3 separate regions of the Homo sapiens genome follow, and all the other regions are reported to be linked to region 1. The links are microRNA targets in miRTarBase. Many come from high-throughput screens and were not tested one by one. Region 1 holds a microRNA gene; each other region holds the end of a gene's coding sequence.

Region 1 (7,000 bases):
ACAGAAAGCTTCAATAAACTGCAGTCAGTGTTTGGGTATTTTATATGTACTTCCACAGTCAGCGTTTGGGTATTTTATATCTACTTTCACAGTCAGCGTTTGGGTGTTTTATATCTACTTTCAGATGAGAAAGAAGCTGAGATGCTCAAGAAACTGTCCAACAGGGTGAGGGGTCATGGTGAACTGGTGGTGCAGGAGGGATGTGAGCTGAGACCTGTTCCATGCCAAAGTCTGCGCTTTTTCCGCTAGAAAGAGGAAGGATAAAAATCCCAGTGTGCCCATCCCCACAGGAATTTGAATGTACCATGTTAGGAGAAGACAGCGTTATACAAAAACTGGCTTCAAATCACTCTCCAAGCAAGTCACTTCTTAGTTTTCTACACAAAAAGTCTAGGAGAGGGACCTAACACCTGGAACCTGGCACCTAGGGTGTGTATTCTGTCCACAGCACATCAATCAAACTCAGTCACCAACTGAGGGCCACCATCTCCAGGCCCTCACACCGGGGAAGCACACTGCTTTTCCTAGGTTTATTCACTCAACCAAAATAGATGCGCTGTCAGTGGAACTCCTAGGATGACTACATAGACAGACATCTTCTATTGGTCTTCCCCCACTCACCCTTACCCCATGTCTGAGCTTAGATGACAGAGGTTTTTCATTGATTTCATTTTCTGAATAGATAATACTTTCCCAGTTCAAAATTCACATGGGAAAGAATTTCACATAGGAAGGGGAAGAGTGAAGTCTCCCTAACCCCCCTCCAAGTTCCCATTTGCAGAAACATCCAAAGTTACTGGTTTAAAAATGCAACTTTGTGCTATTTCTCCAAATTAACAGAATTATCTAGATAATACTATGATATCAAGCTATCTACCTGACTAGAATATTCTAGGTGATCACAATAAATTTAGTACCTTTTAGGTTATTTTAAATATCCCTTAAATACTCATGTAGACGTTTCCAACATATTAAAATGACTGAGTGAGGGTAACAACATTTTTTAAAAGAAAAAACATGTTAGTAAGATGCATGGTCACGACAGATGACTGTGAACTCTGGCTGTTACGAACCAATCACTGTTGAGTACTGAGCTCACCTGGTTCCTGTCGCGTGCATTTGTGTACCTGATCTTCTGAATGAAGTAGAATATGAGCCATGCTGAAGAAATAATCATCAAAACAATAAAGGATATTGACACGAAGACTAGAGAGCCACGGCTGAAGTTCTTCGGTGGCATTCGAGTTCCAACAGCTATTGTCATTTGTACAGAGATGTTTTTCTCCAGATAACTCAAAATATCCTTACCCCTCAATTCTGTTATCATGACAGCAATAATATCTCCAGTGCCTGCAATATAAAATAAATATATAACTCAAGTGACATTTAAAACTTATGGAAACATCAAATGTATCAACACGCTACTTAGGTAACTACTATAATGTCTGGTAATGGAAAGGGTATGCAAACTCCACTTCTCAACTGAAATGTAGATGCAGCTGGGTATGCTGGCACCAAGTAGGAACATGTAATTTGTTGTGTGGTACTTAAGACTTAAACAGACATAAGGCATAGAACGACTGCAGTGTTAAGAACCATATTAACTTGTCTGACAACTACATTTTTAAAAAAAGATTATTAAACCAGCCAAATGTGACAACAGACAGCAACATAACATTATACAGCAAGAGAAGTGTATCAACATCATGGTAGATTTACACTGTAAAACCTTTTCTATTTTAAAATGATCTTCAGAAAGTCTTAATTCCTTAAGAAATGGAGTAAAGTGCTGTTTTTATAGCATAAATTGGTACTTCTTGCACTAATCTAGGAACATTCATGGAGTACCCACTGTCTGTAGAACTAGTGCCAGGAACAAAAACAAGTACAGGATACCAAGCTTTCTAATCTCACTGAGACAGGGGACACACAGCTGGTAACAGAGCTACAAAGTGCCAAATGGTGCCACCTTTTATTAGTGACATCTGAAACTAACTTGGGTCTTATGTCCAGACTTGAGTGGAGTTGAGGCTCCTTGCTAGTTTACCCCAGAACTCTTCTGGAAATCAAACGTTCCAGAGACAGGTCCAGGCTTCAACATTCTGGACCAGTTTGGCATCGAAATACCTCCAGCCTCTAACAGTTGTCCAGAGGTCTGCCCACAAGCACAGGCTATGCAAGTTAATTACGAGGACAGTCTTAAGTTGCCTTATAGTTACCTAGACCTTTCCCCTACATAATTTCCAGAAGTAGTAACAGTGAAGGAATTGAATACCTCTTCCTATGGACAGCAGGAAACTGCTATCCCTTTCCTCCTCCACAAAGGAAATAACTTCCCACTGTCTTTTAAGGAAACAGAGAAACTTCTATCAATCTATCAGCGATTGTCCTTTCATAAGCTGAAGCTGCCGGTGGCAACATGTAGCTTCTACATTTGCCTTCTCCAGAGAGCCCCTGAGAGAGACTAGGGGTCATTAGAAGGGAAATAAATATTTTATTTTGGGAAAGAGAAAATTATAACCACTTATTTGAATTTGAATAAGGTTTGTACATATCAATGTAAACCAACAAAACAATCAAGCAGAAGTCCCCAAAACTTGTCCTTTTCAATCCTTCTTCAATGAATAACACATTGAAATATTTGGTTTTACATGTTTCATTTACCATATTTAGCTAAAAGAACCATCTTTGTGTTACATGCAGTCACAGAAGACTACACGCAACTGAAAAGAAATTCAACAGGGCTGGGCGTGGTGGCTCATGCCTATAATCCCAGCACTTTGGGAAGCCAGGGCAGGTGGATTGCTTGAGCTCAGGAGTCCAAGACCAGCCTGGGCAACATGGTGAAACCCTGTCTCTCACAAAAACAGGAACATTAGCTAGGCATGGTGGCACATGTCTGTGGTCCCAGATACTCAGGAGGCTGAGGTGGGAGGATCACTGGAGTCCAGGAAGTTGAGGCTGCAGTGAGCTGAGATCACGCCACTGCACGCCAGCCTGGGTGACAGAGCAAGACCCTCAAAAAAAAGAAGAGAAATACAACAGTAAAAGGAGTTTTATGGAAAATGTAACCCAATGGAACATATACCTTTTTACTACCTTACTCAAAATTGTTACAGCCACTTTATTAGAACAGCAGTTTACCAGAATACCGATTAAAAATCTACAAAAAACTATAAAATTAAAGCAAGCAATAAACATCTAATTAATATCTAATTACCTTTCTGAAATAAGAGTTGTGATCAGTAAATTAGAGACAATCACAAAATAATGCTAAACCGCTTTAAATTTCCCTTTAGAAATCTCTTAAAATGTTGTTCAACGGGCCATGATCTGTGGTATAAGATACCAGGTATGGCTATAAAGTAACTGAGACGGATCCCACAAACGACATATGACAATCAGTCTCATTGCTTTATAATCACACCAGGTACAAACGGTTTTAGAAATCAGTTGAGGCTCCCTCTTGAAGACTCAAGCTGGAAAAGGAGTAGGGAAAGGAGTAGGGAAAGGAGTAGGGAAAGGAGTAGGAAAGGAGTAGGGAAAGGAGTAGGAAAGGAGTAGGGAAAGGAGTAGGAAAGGAGTAGGGGAAGGAGTAGGGAAGGAGTAGGGAAAGGAGTAGGGAAAGGAGTAGGGAAAGGAGTAGGGAAAGGAGTAGGGAAAGGAGTAGGGAAAGGAGTAGGGAAAGGAGTAGGAAAGGAGTAGGAAAGGAGTAGGGAAAGGAGTAGGAAAGGAGTAGGGAAAGGAGTAGGGAAAGGAGTAGGAAAGGAGTAGGAAAAGGAGTAGGAAAGGAGTAGGGAAAGGAGTAGGGAAAGGAAAGCTGAACAGGTAGCCAAGGAAACCAATCCATGTGATTCTATTCAAAGAACACTAAATAAGAACACCAACTAATTTCAACGGGAAAGCTGTTTGGGAAAAGAAGTGTGTAATTATTTCAACCATCCATTCAACAATATTTATTGAGCACATACTATGATCAGGCTCCTTTCACCTCTTAAAGAGAGTAGAAAATTACCTGCTCTTGATGCAAAAATCCACACGCCCTCAGGAGCAAAGGGGGAACCTTTTGGACTAGGAAGAGAAGCCGCTCGCGGTGGCGTCATTACACCAGCACAGAGAAGAGCCGGGCAGAGGAGCCCGACCCTGCCGATCGGGCAGGAGGACAGCAGAACGAAAGCCCGCCACCAACTTGCAAAGGACTGGAGTTTTAGGTCTTAAATCTTTTACAGAATCTGGCGAAAGTTATATAGGAGTCCCCTCCTAGGAGAAAGGGCCTTCTCCCCATACTCCACCCCTAAAGCCTGATAGGGCTCAAAGACCCTGACCTAAAGCTGCCTCAGACACTTGACTTTTAAGGATCTGAGGAGCTCTGGCCCAGTTTCACGCCAAAGGAAATGTAGGCTTCACAATAAAGGGCCGGTCAGAGGAGGCAGTGACTGAAAAGAGTGAAGAATAATTAGACTGTAACGCTGTAAATATCAAAGCACATTTGGGACATGCCCCACCACTCCCATGTCCCAGGCCCTGGGCAAACACTGCTAGTAAGTCACGGATGCGGCCACGCTCCCACGCACTTCCACGTCTGGCCGCCAGTACTAACTGTCAGAGATGGCAATCCAGTGAAAGCCCATCTGTGATCCCTGCTTCCAACTATTTTCTTGAGAAACTTCCCCCACTGTTATTCTTTAACAGGAACTTCTGTTTCCACACTGCTTGAGTCTGGCTACTTTAATAAACAATTCTATTCTTTCCACTTTCATCCTGAGAATTTTCAAACCCATAGAGCAGTTCCAATACTGTGAGAACACTCATGGACCTTTTATTTAGATTTGTCAACATTTTGTCCTTTCTATATGTATTTATTTTTGCTGAACCAATTAAGAGTAAACTGCAAACACATGACATTTTATTCTTAAATACTTCCACGGTCCCTCCTAAGAACAAGGCTAGCTACGTGGCCACAATTCATTTACTTATCCTCAAGAAATTTAACCCTGTGTTCTTTAATAGATGGTCCATTTTCAGGTATCTGTGGTGATGACTTTAATAGCTGTTTAACTTGTTTAGTTTTGTGTCCAGGATTCAATCGGGGCTGTCGGCATCATGCTTAGCTGTCATGTCTCATTAGTCTCCTTTGATCTAGAATAGTTCCTCAGTCACTTCCGGTCCATTCATCACAACACTGACCTTTTTAAAGAGTCCAATCCAGATGTTCTGACCATGCCCCTCAATCTGGATTTGACTGTTTCCTAATGATTAGATCTCCAAATTAAATATTTCTAGTAAGAATACCACAAGGTGATGGCGTGTCCCTCCTCAGCTCGTCACTTCAGGAAGTGCAGGCCGGGTTGTACCTTTATTTTTGGTGGCAAATTTTATGACTTGGTTATTTTGGTATCTGCCAGGTTTCCTCACTGTAAATAAATGTTTTCCTCTTAATTAATAAGCAATCTGTGGGCTGATACTTCCAGATTGTGTGACTAGCCAGTTCCCCAAAAACCTTTCACTCAATGCTCTCAGCATCCACTGGTGTTTGCCTGAATCTGTTACGACAATGGTATTTGTAAAATTCTAATTCCCTAATGCTGTGATTTCTTCTACATTTTGTAAACTGATTCTATAATCAAAGGCATTAACAACACTTTCTACTTATCTTTGTTTCCCATTAAAAAAACAGAAATGCTGGGTGGGCAGTTTTTCGGAAAAGAGCCCCCCATCCCCATCAATTCTATTTTTTAATGAGGAAAAAAAGTGGGAAAATATGATAATACTGCTATAATCCTGACTACAAAATCAGTTTTGAGAGGCCAACAGAAGGAACCTCAGAATTAAGCTCCTTTGGGCTCCGGAATCGGAGGGTCTAGGTTCAAATCCCAGCATGGTACTTTAACCTCTTTGAACTTCAGTTTCTTCTTTCAAAAAATGACAAACTACCTGCAGGCTTCACAGCAGATGTTCAGTAACTGCTGCAGCGTAATGAGCTGTATTAGTCTGTTCTCACACTGTTACAAATAAATACCTGAGACTGGGTAATTGAGAAAGAAGAGGTTCAGGCTGGGCGTGGTGGTTCACACCTGTAATCTCAGCACTTTGGGAGATCAAGGCGATGGATCACCTGAGGTCAGGAGTTTGAGACCAGCCTAGCCAATATGGCGAAACCCCATCTCTACTAAAAATACAAAAATTAGCTGGGTGTGGTGGCAGGCGCCTGTAATCCCAGCTACTCGGGAGGCTGAGGCAGAAGAATTGCTTGAACAAGGGTGGTGGAGGTTTCAGTGAGCCGAGACTGTGCCACTGCACTCCAGCCTGGGAAACAGAGTGAGACTCCATCTCAAAAAAAAAAAAAAGAAAAGAAAAGAAAAAAAGAAAAGAGGTTTAATTGACACACAGTTCCACATGGCTAGGGAAGCCTCAGGAAACTTACAATCATGGCAGAAGGCACCTCTTCACAGGGCAGCAGGAGAGAGAACGAGTGCAAGTTGGGGAAATGTCAGATGCTTATAAAACCATCAGATCTCATGAGACTCACTCACTAGCCATGATTCAATGACCTCCGCCTGGTCCCACCCTTGACATGTGGGGATTATAGGGATTGCAATTCAAGGTGAGATTTGGGTGGGGACACAGAGCCAAACCATATGATGAGCTAATCCTACTTGTATTATTACTCACAGAAAGCAAAAGAAAATGTTGTGGGAAGAAAATCAAAAGGCCTCTAACCACAGATTTTTGGATGCCCATTCTCTCTTCGCCCCCTGCCCACTGCTCAGAAAATGCCCAGGGATCTGCTGACCAACACAGTCCTGCCAGCTACAAAAGAATTTATGCTTTAGTTTAGAAAGTGAGTCTACCCAGCTGGGAAGAGTCTGATCTATGCCCTCACCCTCTTGGCTTCCCTCCACTCCTCCTGGGAGTAAACCCCGGGGCAAGCCCAGTGTAGCTGAGCAGCTGATAAAGGAAGATCCAGGAAGAGAACAAATGAGCTGTCTGAGGCACCAGG
Region 2 (7,304 bases), not on the chromosome of region 1:
CACAAAATAATAGTGGTATTCAAGAAAAATTCAGAGAACAAGAATGTGCTTTTGGAAATTACAAATGACAGAAAAGAAAAACTCAATAGAAGGCTTAAAGGAGTACATTAAGAATACATCCTGGATATGCAAAGATACGGAATATAGATCAGAAAAGCTGCCCTCCTATATAGACTAGAGAATCAATATGTTAATGGTCTGATATAATAAGATTCCCAGAGAGAAACTGAGAATACAAAGGATAAAATTAATAAATATTTGGAAAAGATTTCATAATTTAATTACGTGAGTATTTAAAGAGCACAGTAAAGCATACTGTAATATAAGACTTACAGTGAAATTTAACACATTGTGGCAAATAGGATATCTATAAGTATTCAGAGTGAAAATAATAAAATCACTAACAAAGAACCAAGAATCAAAAATAGACTGGAGTTATCAATACTGAAATTTAGAAAAACAAACAAACAAAACTTTTAAAATATTGAAAAAAAATCCATCCAAGAAATCTATACTCAGCTAACCTTCTAATTGTGAGGGTAGAATACAGGTATTTTGGATATAAGGGTCTCAAAAACTGTATGCATCCTAAACCGTTCCCCAGAATATTACTGTGTAATGTACTCCTCCAAAATGAGGAAGTTAACCAAGAAAGAGGAAGTTATAGTATACACAAAACAGGAGACCTAACATATGAAAGAGAGAGAGGATACAGGATTTCCCCAGAAAGATGGTGAATGTGCCCAGCCTGACAATTGTTTGGATGCAGAAGTAGTGGTAGCAAATATTTTGGTTTATCCAGGGTTTGGGGTTTTCTAGGTAAGCACGATGGAGAAACAGACACATGAATTGACAGTGAACTCTTTCACTGTCATTGTTACAATGAGGAAATATTAAAACCATTCTGGATAAGAATAAAAGTATAGACTAGAGGAGAATGATAGTGAACAAGTAGCAAAATCAATGGTTTAGAAGTCCTGAAGAGATAGAAAAAGTTTCTAGAGAGCAAGAACTAGCATAAATGAGCTAGGAAAGGAGGTGGTAGTCAGAGACGTTAAGGTGATCAAGATGTTAGAGAAGATATAGTTTCTAGTGATGACCAGGGAATGTGTGGTTGAGGGAAGGAAATGTGGTTGTCAAATACAGAGAGCTCAGAATGCTGGAGTTATCTGCACCAATAATGAAGTCACCCATAGGGTGACACAAGTAGAGGTATAAAGAAAGAAAGGCCAACAGGAACTAAAGTATTCAATTAATGCAGGGAATGAATTAAGATAAATGACCTATAAATTCATGGTTGACAGCAGCACGAAGGGGTAGAGCATAATATATCCACATGACACGGCTTCAAATAAGCTGGGGCATTTTTGAAGAAGGACACACCTATCCCAAATCCTAGCCTTGAAGTGCAAGAGGAATGATAGAAAACAAAAACAAAAAACAATAACCCTCACTAGAATTGGAAGATTTATCCTTAATTAATGTCCAGTTCAGTTAAGGCAAGACAATACGTAGAATTTTCAGAGACAAAATTGCTGATATAATAGAGTTTTCTAATCAAAGAAGTTTGCAGAGTAGAAGGTTATCAGAAGGTGGGGGATTTATCAACTTAGAGATATACAAAGGATGTAGGATCTGCCAGGGAAGAATAATGATGATAATGGTTGATAGAGAGGCATTGACTTCTGGTCGTACTAGAAGTAATTATGGATGTCAAGCATGGTCAAAGTCATCATGGTAGTCTCGAAGAACCCTGGGCATTGGTTCACTGGGTAGCCTTTCTATTCAAAGCGCGGTACCAGGGCCAGCCGCTTTGGTATCACCTGAAAGTTTGTCAGAAATACAAAATTACAAGCTCTACCCCAGGCTTAATCAATCAGAATCTTATTCAATCTGATTGATTCTTAATCAGAATCTTATTCAATCTGATTGATTCTTAATGAATCAAAATCTTATTCAAACTGATTGATTCTTAATCAATCAGAATCTTATTATTGTGTGTACAAAAAGGTTTAAGAAGCATTACTTCAATTATTTACCTCTAAAATATGGGGTGCCTGTTTTCTCCTCTAGCTCCTGTCAGTGGACTCACCAGAAGTTGAATATGTTGACTTCATCATGGGACTATTTCTCTTTAAAACATCATTATGAGACCACATTGGTGACCACATTACTAAACTATAACTTTCTCCGCCTTCAGATGGGGACTATTTTGTATATTATTAGTGCCTGGTGCCTAATAAAATCCCAAAAACAGACACAAAAAATTTCCTAGGTGTTGTGGAAGCCTAGAGAGCGAGAGGGACTAGGCGTGCAGGAGGAATCTCTTTTGCAGTTGGGCTGGTGATGTGGAAAAAGTAGGACTGTAGGACTGGAAAAGGGAAGATTGGGTAGGTTGATAATTTGGAAAAGGTAATTAAAATATAAATTCATAAAAAGATGTCAAATATTTTAATTTAAAATATACACACTACACACACACACATACACACTACACACACACACACACAATGCCACATTTGTATGTGTATTAATTCCTTCACAGATATTCTTTTGTAGGGCCCAAGGCCTTTTATCTGAGTATGAACTGGTTTCTGAGAGTTCTGCAAACATCTTCCTTGCACAAAGCATACTAAAAATGCATTGTCTAAAGATATTTATTTCTGCTGTCTTTAAAGTGAATTGTGAAGCAATCTGAGTACAGAATCTGCCTAGTTTTTTGTTTTCCCTATCTTTTACAATTCTCATCTACACATAACAGCATTTTAAAAATGATTTTTTTCTAGTCCTTCCGATAAAGTCAACCTTGTCCTTTTTGCACTTATATTTTGATGGTATATAAAGTACTTAACTAAATTGTCCAATACTAGTCTCTGGTAATATAGGGGCTTAAAAAATCCATCATCATTGGTTATAGTAATGGGCAATTTTAGTGTGTTGCTTATTTTCTCCTATAGTTAACTCTGTGATCCCCTCTCAGATTTCAGTGAACTTGCCCATCAGGTTAACCCTAGTGGATCTGGCAGTGCAGCTTACCAACCGAGAGTTCTTAGGACTTGGTGCTCTGGAATGAAGGCAGCATGCCAGGTCTTCTGTAGCAACCAGACCATTTGCCATGGCAGCTTCAAATTGAGCAAGAATTCCACAATTTCACACTTGAGTGCAGTTAAGTCTCAGGTGGATGGCAGCCAGGTTCCATAAATAACTCTCGGTTATCATTGTTCCAAAACTCAAGACTTTTAAAAGGCACTACCTACCCTAAAGGTCCAGTCCTTAATGACATGATTTGTATGACACTTGAGCAATAGCCTGAGGCTGCCAAATCAGGTAAGAAGGACTTTCCCATAATAATATCAACCTACTCTAAGTAGATTTCAGTTGGATCATGATATATCAACATATGAGTGATACATGCAGGGCACTCACTTTGGTTTTTTTGAAAATATGTTTAAGTTCATTTATGAAATATTTTTGAGAAATAATTTTGTGTTTAGAGATATAATAAGCTCTAAGAGAAATATATGCTCATAGATATTCATGCCTAGTGGTACTTACCTTCTACTTTAAAATTATTTGCCTTTCTTTCTGACCCATGAGACATAGCTCAAAAGTAATAACAAGTCTTACTCTGCCTACCATCACTTCTGATATGGTTTGGCTGTGTTCCCACCAAATGTCATCTTGAATTGTAGCTCCCATAAATCTCACGTGTTGTGAGAGGGGCCCAGTAGTAGATAATTGAATAATGGGGGTGGTTTTCCCCACACTGTTCTTGTGGTAGTGAGTAAGTCTCACGAGACCTAACGGTTTTATAAGGGGAAACCACTTTCACTTGGTTCTCATTCTGTCTTGTCTCCCTCCACGTAAGACATGCCTTTCACCTTCCGCCATGATTGTGAAGCCTCCCCAGCCACGCGGACCTGTGAGTCCATCGAACCTATTTTTCTTTATAAATTACCCAGTCTCAGGTATGTCTTTAACAGCAGTGTGAAAACGGGCTAATACAACTTCTGATAGAAAATTAGGCACATAATACACATTAGTTGAAATAATCAACTGGAGAATGTAGGCTTTTTTTTTTTTTTTTGAAAGAGTCTTGCTCAGTCACACAGACTGAAGTGCAGTGGTGTAATCATAGCTCACTGTAGCCTCGATCTCCCAAGCTCAAGCAATGCTTCTGCCTCACCTTCCTGTATAGCTGGAACTACAGATGCGTGCCACCACACCTAGGTAATTTTATTTTTAATTTCATTTTTTAATTTTTACTTTTTGTAGAGATGAGATTTTGCTATGTTGCCCAGGCTGGTCTGGAACTCCTGAGCTCAAATGATCCTCCCACCTTTGCCTACCAAAGTGCTGGGATTAGAAGCTGAGCCACCATGTCCAGCTCAGAATGCAGGCTTTTTAATACAAATTCAAACTTACAAACAAACAATGAGAAGATAGGGTCAATAACCAGTATATGCTCTTTTTCGTACAGCTGAGGCTCTGCCAGATTTAAAATATGAAACCGATCGTATTTTACTTCGGGAACAAGAATACAGGAGATCTAAATATAAAATGACGAAAAACAAAAAAAAAAAGTGGTAAATCTCCTAAGCAAGCGTCAAATTTTTTTAAAACATCATTCTATCAGATGCTTAAGGAACTTTATCAGAAATTAATACAAAATTTTCTAAATATTGAACACAGGAATTTTGCTATTCCTCATTTTTTGTGCCATAAGAAATATCTGATGGTTTTACAAACAATAGGCGCTTAGAAATTCAGCATACAAAATTCATTTTCCCCCACCTATTATCAATTACAGATTTTACCCAAAAGAGGAAAAAAACTTAACCAAATGATTACAATAGTGTTGAGGATTTTTTATTGTGTTTTCCACATAGATAAAAAAATAAGGCTTTTTGATGAAAAGAATCCATTACAAAGTCAAAAATCCATTACAATTATAATTGAATCAGTAACAAAATTTAGCTTTAAATGAGTCAAGTATTCTGCATTTGAAATTTAATATCACAAACATTCAAGATTAGTGAATTTTGGTAAGAAAAAAATACTAGAAGAAAGGAAAAGGACACCTTTTCAACAGATAGTAATTTATAAAAATTTTTTTAAAAGTGCTTTGGGAAAACACACAGTATCATTACTTAAGAAAAGTCATTTAAGGAAGACTTAAGTGCTTCAAGTGGAGTGTATTACAGACTAAAAAATGTTTTAAAATTTGCCAAGAAATTTAAGTGTTAAAAATACTCTTCTCCTTATTCAGTTTCATGTTTAAGGAAACATTTGACAGACAAGTAAACCAAACGCAAAAAAAAGTTCACCTGCATTTTAAACTAATAAATTCTGGATCTGTAAAAGCTCTTGGTTTGTACACAGAGGCCAATGCTGACATTTATTGATCTATTTTTATGTAGTTAAAAAAATACAGTAACAAATCTTTCTTCCTATCCCCCCAAAAAACTAGGGGAAATATTTTAAATTGTGAGTGTGTGAATGTAGCTATATATATATATCCCTAAGTGTACAAAACACACAAACATCACTTTACTTGGAAAATTATTTTCATCATACTGTAAACATCTCTTCCCCTACATCTGGACATTTTGAAATAGTCTTTGGTATTACTAGTTATTGTGCTTTGAAACAGAAACTTGCAGAATTTCTGTAGTAGTGCTACATAAAGATATAAATAAGAAAAATGCACTTGGAATAAGTTACATTTAGCTGCTTTTGCATAATTTTCAAAAACTACAGTGTATGCCTAGTCACAGTTTTATGAGAAAGAATATTTCCTTTTTCAACTTAATTTTAAGGAACACTTAATCATTTTGGCTAAGTATCCATTTTTGGAGTGGATCTGATGGGTTGCATGACACTAAACTTGGATGCTCTCCATTTGCTGAAAGGCACATTTTTAAGAATGGATTGTATAGAAGTTGATCCTAGAATAAAAGGAAACAACAGACATTAAATTCCAAGACTCATAGTTAAGTGACAAATATGAAAAAGATTTTATGGTTTCATTGAAGCAAACCTAATAGCAAATCTTTCTAAGGTGAGCCATGTCTGATAAACTCTTTTTGGCTTCTAGTGTAAATGCCACCTTTTAAGCTACTACTCTTCAATTAGTAAGATATTACATAATGAAGAGAGGCAGACAGAACAAGGTTTGAATCACATTTTCAAACAAGAAGTATTCCCTTGATATATCCATAAGTGACAAACTCTTAAAAACATCATAAATTATAAAAGCCAGTGTTAACGTTTTCTAGTACTGCACAAAACAATGTTCAGGTAAGAATTGCTATGATACAGCTAAGCCTTAAACATGTTTAAAAACAGAAGAGACCTGTTATGTATTCTCTCAATTCTAGGTTTGTGAAAAAGTGCTAAAACAGGGTAGAAAAAAATTAATCACTTCAAGTGAGAAGATATAATAATTTTTCTTCTCTCTGACAGAAAAAAAATATGACTGTTGCTAAAAGCATTATAAGAAACCCTAAATAGTAAAAAACAAGCGACTAATATTAATAATTCACAGAAGTGCTCATCTGCATATATCACGGTTCAACCAAGCAACTTAATTTTTTGTTACTAAGAGTACTTAATTCATAGATATATTCTCTTATCACATGGGTAGAAACACATAATAACAAAGTTAATAAAGGGAGAGAAATTCTGATAGATAATATTAATGTACCATGTTCCACTCATTTTCCCAGATAAGCAAGTAGAGCTAAGAAAAATAGTTAAATAGATGAATTAATTGCACTGAGGTACCTTCTGGATCTCCCATATCTGCTCTCCAGTGACAACTGTCTTGTGACCTTTGTAGGTACATGCCTTCAGCTGAACGAGACCTTGAGCAGCATGAAGACATAATTCCTTCTGGATGTTGTGCCGAATTTCATGTTGAGCAGAGTATTCAAAGTACTATGGAAGGAATAGCACTGTTACTGACAAAAGCAACCCATGTGCTCAGTTGCAAAATAAATAAATAAATCAGCAACTCGTTAAATAATAAAGTCATTTCTATTTCAACAAAATAATACAATAAAAATAGTTATTAGAAACATAAGCTGAGTTTTTGTGATAGACGATACAATAGCCTTCCTTCATCAACAGGTGGTTACTTCATTAACAAGGTGCTGTCTTCCTCCCCATACCAGAAGTTGGAAGTTATCAAGGAGAGTGGAGGCTATCCCAGGCATTCCTCAGAAAAGGGAATGAAGAGTTATAACAAGAACATTAATTGCCTCTCTCCCACAAGTGTTCCATCTCTCTTCTTCATCTCAATC
Region 3 (7,304 bases), not on the chromosome of region 1:
CAAAAAGATGATTTCCTGAAATTATAGAGGACATTTGACATTCCTAGGTCAAAACTCACCTTGCTTAATCTTTGTGGTACAAATAATAATTCATGAATATTTATACCATCCTCTTATATAGAAGTTAGAGTTTTTCTCTTGCATGTTGAAACTGAAAAAGCACTTTTTTACAAGAATATTTAAGTTGGTAGACAAAGTTTTTGTATTCACAGTAGAATGGAGTTGTGGGATTTATCCTTGTTATTTCTAGTTTGGTAAACTAGAGTGTATTGATATTTTGGTTTTTCTCCACAGTTCGTAATGGACCTGAAAGTGGCAGCAAGATTATGGTTCAGTTTCCTCGTAACCAATGTAAAGACCTTCCAAAAAGTGATGTTTTACAAGATAACAAATGGAGTCATCTTCGTGGGCCATTCAAAGAAGTTCAGTGGAATAAAATGGAAGGTCGAAATTTTGTTTATAAAATGGAGCTGCTTATGTCTGCACTTAGCCCTTGTCTACTATGATTTTTTCCAGATGTTTCCTAAAGAAGTTTCCAGAAACTTTGACTTGAAATGTTTGCAGATCAACTATAAGCACAAAGAAGAGATAACTTCCAAAAGAGTGCTGTTTTTAAAAATAATAATTAGGAAATGTTTATTTAGCACTTTCAAACTTTTCACTTTATAAATGACAAGTGCTTTGAAATGCAGAAGTTTATGTACAGTTGTATATACAGTATGACAAGATGTAAAATAATATGTTTTTCATGCAGTTTAAAATATTACTAACTTAAGGGTTTCTATGTGCTTTTTAAAATATTCCTTCTTTGATGTTGACATCAAATAAAGTATGTGGTTTAAAAAAATCTCCAAATACCTTTTTTTCCCCCCAAATACTTTCTAAACTTTTTTTTTTTGAGATGGTATCTCACTCTGTAGCCCAGTCTGGAGTGCAGTGGTGTGATCATGGTTCACTGCAGTCTTGACCTCCCAGGCTTAGGTGATCCTTCTGTCTCAGCCTTCCGAGTAGCTGGGACCACAGGCATGCACAACCACGCCTGGCTAATTTTTGTATTTTTTATAAAGACAGGGTTTTTCCATGTTGCCCAGGCTGGTTTCGAACTCGGCTCAAGTGATCTACCTGCCTCTGCCTCCCAAAGTGCTAGGATTACAGGCGTGAGCCACCATGCCCAGCCTACTCTAAATTATTGATAACCTCTTCCTCCAGTTGTCTCCTTTAAGCTTTCCTGGGTCTAACCTACATAGGTAATTTAAGAACATCCTCAGAAAGGACAGCTGAAGGCAATAGGAGGCAGATTATCTCTTTAGGGCGTCCTCAAGTTTTTTTGGTCTGTTCTCCCACTTGATTGACCTCACCAGTTGAGACACCTAGTGTATGGCTCATGCCCAGCCTTCCACCTGGGATTCTCCAGCCTCCACCCAGCAGCCCTGGATTGCTTTCTCCAATTAAGGCCTTTCCATCAGCTCTCTGCTTTTTCAAAGCGAAAAAACTAATGGATTAGTGGGTTATCTTTTCCAAGGAACAGGTTTGCACTTCTTGGAAAAAGTGCCTAAAGTGTGCCCATTAATATGAGGATAGATTTAGGCTCATAAGCCTTTTGGTAACACTGAAAGTAGTATCATATAGGCAAGCTCTCCTTATAAGTAAGGCTTTCAATTTTTAAAACAGACATCCTGCTTTAACAATTTGTAAGATGACTGTGCAGTAATAAAAGTCCTTTGTATTTCTCCACCGTGTTTTCATTAAAGAAAAATGGAGCTTGTGGGCCACGATAGAACAACTTTGTGCTTTTTTCCCCTTCTGATCAAGATCTTGCATCTTTCTATCCATGGAAATTAAAATAATTGGTATGAATTTGCAGTTATTTAAAAATCTTGAGTGCTTCAAAAATTATTGTTGCCTGCAAAATTTGCCTTGGTCAATAGGCTAATCTGCACAATTCCACTCACATAAGGAGTCTTTTATGTGATTTTGAAGGCTCAGGCTAGAAGAGTGAGTCTGAGACTTTTGCTGAATGACCAGTTTTTGTTTATATAAACTTCTCCCATTGCAGATTGATACTTTGGTAAACTAATAAAAATGAATTCCTAAAATGAAATTTTGAAAAGATACAAAATAAAAGCCCCATTTATTTGATTATAACTTGATTAAATTGCATCAAATACTAGAATTTATAGACAGAGTCTCACTCTGTTCCCCAGGCTGGAGTGCAGCAGCACTGTTTTGGCTCACTGCAACCTCTGCCTCCTGGGTTCAAATGACTCTCATGCCTCAGCCTCCCGAGTAACTGGGATTACAGGTGTGTGCCACCACGACCGTCTAATTTTTGTAATTTTGATAAGAGGGTTTTGCCATCTTGGCCAGGCTGGTCTTGAACTCCTGGCCTCAATTGATCCGCCCACCTCGGCCTCCCAAAGTGCTAGGATTACAGGCATAAGCCACAGTGCCCAGCCCCCCCAAATATAAACATTTCTGAATGCTTTATTTTTTATTTCTCTGCTTGTCATGAATCAGTAACAAATCATGGACCAGGACCACACCTTGAGTAGAATGGCTGAGAATACATGTGCAGATACTACCGTCTGTTCTTTTAAACCCCATCTGAGTAGAGTGGGATAACTGAAGACTTTACGTTCTTCATGTCTTACTTTCCCTGTTTGGTACGTCGCTGTAGTGAGTAGCCAGTACCGACCTAAAGAATTGTAGAAACTAAAGCAAATGTGTGGGAAAATGGTAGCTTAGTTGCTGTGGTAGCAATTCTTATGCCTTGTATTTATTTACATTTTCTAGTTTAATGTTTTAACCTGAATTTCCTGGAGTTTGAAGGATGTGCTATGGAAACTTGGGAGACAGTTTGAAGAAAACCAATTAGCCCCTCAACAAGTATTAACAGGTTGGCAAGGAGCTGTGTTTGAATCTTGGCTCTGCTACTGGCTTGCTGTATGAACTTGGCAAGGATTCTCTGTGAACTTGTTTCCTTATATATAAATGAAGATAGAGGTGCCTCCTCTACTAACCTCAGTGGTGATTGAGAAGTTTCAGTAACGTTGGTAATAAATGTTAAATTCTAAAGTACTACATAAATATAAAGCATTAAGCAAGTGTGCTTCTAAGAGTCAAGCCAATTAGAAAAAATGGTTGAGACACCAGCTGTATTTATTAGGAGAAAGCATTTCAGAATGTCCTGTATTCATATTTGTATGATGTTTTATATATGGTGAAGATATTGAGTGTTTTTCATCAGATTTCTTTGCTGGAACACCATCAAATCAAAGGGATAACCTGATTATCTCATGTTGATCAGGAATTGTAATTGGCCCTTAAATGCTGGGATTACAGGTATGAGCCACCATGCCTGGCCTCCTTAGGTATTGCTGATGAATAAAAACAGGGGCAACTACATTATTTAGTAAGTTCACTTTGTTTAGTTGGAAAAAAATCCATTCAGAACATGAGGTACCCAAGGGAAAAATATTTGTACAGACAGAACTACCTGGGCAAGCACTAGCCTGTAACATCAAAGGAATTTAACCTACCTATGTGTGTGAGATGGAGCCGGGACCCCTTCTTAAAGGCCTGTGGGCGCCCTGAGCCTGAAAATAAAGGAAAATCTTGAATTCCTTTGAGGGAATTTCCAGGGTAGTGCTGAGACGTAAATAAGCAACTTGATAAGCAAGAAGGTAAGTGTAGTTTAAAACAATTGCCAAGGAAGTTAAGAGTCCAGATGCTTGGTTCCCTATAGAAACTAAAGATAACATCTTAAAATATGTCCCTGAGTTGTTTTCAGAATCTCAGATCCCCACCAAGTGGATTTGCTGGCATGTAGACCTCAGATAAGCAAGGACAACTTGGGCTGCCGTTCTTTGTTCTGAATTTTTTCCCGAGGGGCCTGGAGGAGGTCATGCCTGTGAGCTGGAGCTAACATTCTTTTCTGTTGACCCAAATTTTAGACAAAGCTTCTCCTTAGCCAATTGCAAATCAGAAAATCTTTGAATCCACCTATGACCTGTTGGCCCCTACTTCAAGATGTCCCACCTTTTACATCAAACCAATATATAGCCTCCGTGTATTGATTTATGACTTTGCCTGTAACCTCTGCCTCTCCACCTTTGTGGGTTTTTTGGGGTTTTCTTGTTTTTGTTTTTTGAGACAGGGTCTTGCTCTGTTACCCAAGCTAGAGTGCAGTAGTGCAATCAGCTGCTCATTGCATCCTCAACCTCCTGGGTTCAAGTAATCCTCCTGCCTCAGCCTCTTGAGTAGCTGGGACTACAAGTATACACCAACACATCTGTCTGATTTTTAAAAATGTTTTATAGAGTCAGGGTCTCACTATGTTGGCCAGACTCATCTCAAACCAGCTCAAGGGATACTCTCACCTTGGCCTCCCAAAGTGCTAGGATTACAGGTGTGAACCATTGTACCCAGGCTTGCCTCCCCACCTTTAAAACCTTTACCTGTAAGCCATTGAGGAGTTGGAGTTCTTGCTTGGTGCCCTACAATAAATGCCTCACTTCCTCTTGCTGCAGTCCCAACGTCAGTGCTTGGCTTTGCTGTGCCAGATGAGCAGACCCCAGTTTGGTTTGATAATGTGTACTTTATAAAACCAAATCTAACACTAAAACTTCAGATTTATTTTACATTATCAATACCCTTTCTTCCACCAATACTCAATCTCTGATAAATTTTATGTAAAACCCACCAAAATCGTGGAACATGGAATTCCCTAAAAGACTAAGAGATTCACAGGAGGTAGAGTTGAATGCATTACTTAACAGGAGGAAACCATCTTGGTTGAAGGAACTAGCCTGATACATAGAAAGTTTGCCTAAGATGATTTTTGTATATATCATTTGAAATAAAAAGTAATTTTTCAGTGAACAATTACAGTGTATTCAAAAAAAAAAACCCAGCCGGCGCAGTGGCTCATGCCCATAATCCCAGCACTTTGGGAGGCTGAGGTAGGCCGATAACCTGAGGTCAGGAGTTCGAGACTGGCCTGACCAACATGGTGAAACTCTGTCTTTACTAAAATACAAAAATTAGCCAGGCATGGTGGTGCACACCTGTAATCCCAGCTACTTGGGAGGCTGAGGTAGGAGAATCGCTTGAACCTGGGAGGCGGAGGTTGCAGTGAGCTGAGATGGCACCACTGCACTCCAGCCTGAGTGACAAGAGCAAAATTCTTTAAAAAAAAAAAAAAAAATAGTGTATTCATACTATAGACTGCATTGTGCAGGCAAGAAGAATGAAGTTTTGGAATAGGTAGACATGAAATAATTCCCGACACATTAAGGAAAGACTGGTGAGTTGTAGGGTAATATATATGATAGAATCCCATTTGACTAGAAAGAAAATAGGATAAATATGTATATTTGGCATATATATACACAGATATGTTCATATATGCATAAGCAAGTCTAGAAGGATACACACCAAATTCGACTATTGTTTCCTCTGGATTGAGGGAAGGAGAGAGATCTTTTACTTTATTTAGTTTTTGTTAATTAACTCTAGCCAAAGATACTTTAATATATATAGACTTTAGTGCTATCTGAATTTTAAAGAAGGATTTATCACCTCTGTAATTAAGCCAAACCAAAAATACCCACTTAATTTTTAAAGGGCAGTGGAAATGTTCTCAAGAATTGGAAAAGCTGACAGCCAGGTTGGGTGGATTCAGGGGTGCAGAGAGATGCAAGCTCTGGCAACTCACACCATTAGTGGATATTGAGTTGGGGATAGATGTGCTAACAGTGATCACAAGGATTTGCTCTGCTTTTAGTAAACTATGGATGTGTCTGATGCTTCCCTGGAAACTGGGCAGAAGAAACCTATGCTGGATATGTAAAAGCTGATGCCGGTGAGATGGTTTCCACTTCCCCCAGTATCCTCCCCAGTGTTGTCAAGGAGGCAGCACGTGAATCACGTCCCTGGGGATTCACCCTGTCATATTTGGCTCCTTGTTCCTGGTTACATCTCCAGCATTCTGTTCTGCCATCTCTTCTCAATCCCTTGTTAACACTTACCCAGCTCTTCAGAATTGTAGGGTTTGTCTCTGCATTCTTGCCTGGGGCAAGATATCCTGATAACCTCTCTCACTGCCTTAGCTTCTCACCTTTGTGAGGTATTGCTTCAAATCAGAGTATGCATGAAGTGCTCTCAGGTATTTACCATCTTATGTGGCCTTCAGAGGACATGAGCTCTCCTTGCATACACGGAACACCATGAAATGAGAAAGTACAGTATATACCTTTTGGGGTTCTAAGATCATAACCTCTGAAAGGACATTCTGTTGACAAAGCATGTGTGTTCTGTAGGGTATCTTATCCACTGCTGAACAAGTGGTACAATTATCACATCCTACTTTTGGCCCATTCCAGAAGCAGGAAGAATGCTATTGAATTACAGTTAATATTCTGAAAGCATAAATTTCAAATTGGTCTTCTGGCTACAATTGGGGGAGAATGGTGGTGCTGATAAGGTGTAGTTTTTCTGAATTGCTAAATAATGTTTACTGTTAGAACCAGTGTAATTAGTTGCGTTGTCACTTAAAATATGTGCCAGACCTGACTGTGATTAAGGGTTTTGTTTATGCTCAGCCTGACAGGACACAGCACCCAGAGCCTCTGATTTCTTGGCAGGAGCAGACACACACACAAAGGACCAGGGCTTTATTTTCAGGTTTTATTTCATTCATTCTTTAAAACTTTTTTTTTTCACAGTTTGAAATATAATTTATAGCTTAACATTTACACTAGCTAATCTCTAAGATTTTTATTTTTCTGAAAAGCAAAAACCTCAGGCTCTGCATTTTAAACCTTTCCACAGGAATGTTCAGTATGGCAGAGCTTTAAAAATTCAAAAGAAACCCTTTTTTCAAAGAAATGGAAAGCCAAGGAAAGAAGCTTTTTTTAAAAAAAACATTGTAACTTCCCACACTACTGATGTGAATAAACTGTCATGAGATTTGGGCGGGGGGGCAATTTAATTGACATCTGCCATGGAGGCCTCTTAGTGGGTGTTCTTTTCCAACTCCCCTTTGATTATGAAGATTGCCAGCCCTGACTTCGGGACAAGCGGAAGAGCAGAGTTCTGAAAGGCAGGTAGTGTGGAAGAGGACATGCTGGCCCCAGCAGCTACCCAACTCCCACTGCTTTCCTGCTGGTGGCCTCTCTGTGTGAAAGACAAGAAAGAAATCAGCAGATTATCCTTGAGCCCCTTGGATACTGCTCACCTCGTTTCTTCACAGCACTGGAAACTGTCCTGGCCCAGAGCCTGGTTCCTCCGACTGCTGCGTGGGG

Evidence for each region. Region 1 holds the annotated microRNA hsa-miR-340-5p (UUAUAAAGCAAUGAGACUGAUU, at 3,400-3,421, opposite strand). A microRNA usually pairs through its seed, bases 2 to 8, with sites in the 3' UTR of a target mRNA and lowers its output. Matches are read on the target gene's strand: a 7mer-m8 pairs with bases 2 to 8, a 7mer-A1 pairs with bases 2 to 7 and ends in A, and an 8mer does both.
Region 2: the mRNA of GALNT3 is a reported target of hsa-miR-340-5p. Seed matches in the 3' UTR shown: 7mer-A1 at 5,101-5,107.
Region 3: the mRNA of MED17 is a reported target of hsa-miR-340-5p. Seed matches in the 3' UTR shown: 8mer at 662-669 and 7mer-A1 at 1,059-1,065.

What each region holds. Positions count from the first base shown.
Region 1 is chr5:180,011,962-180,018,961 of GRCh38, forward strand. MIR340 (microRNA 340) reads right to left here and starts at 3,436; the gene lies at 3,342-3,436. It overlaps RNF130 (ring finger protein 130), which reads right to left. Exons shown (of 9, transcript NM_018434.6): 3 at 1,100-1,350.
Region 2 is chr2:165,742,956-165,750,259 of GRCh38, forward strand. It overlaps GALNT3 (polypeptide N-acetylgalactosaminyltransferase 3), which reads right to left. Exons shown (of 11, transcript NM_004482.4): 10 at 6,787-6,939; 11 at 4,633-5,948. The coding sequence ends at 5,826. Among named protein-coding and RNA genes, the nearest start is that of GALNT3, 48 kb to the right of the region's middle.
Region 3 is chr11:93,811,559-93,818,862 of GRCh38, forward strand. MED17 (mediator complex subunit 17) reads left to right here. Exons shown (of 12, transcript NM_004268.5): 12 at 295-3,405. The coding sequence ends at 506. VSTM5 (V-set and transmembrane domain containing 5) reads right to left here. Exons shown (of 4, transcript NM_001144871.2): 4 at 6,674-7,304. Among named protein-coding and RNA genes, the nearest start is that of MED17, 31 kb to the left of the region's middle.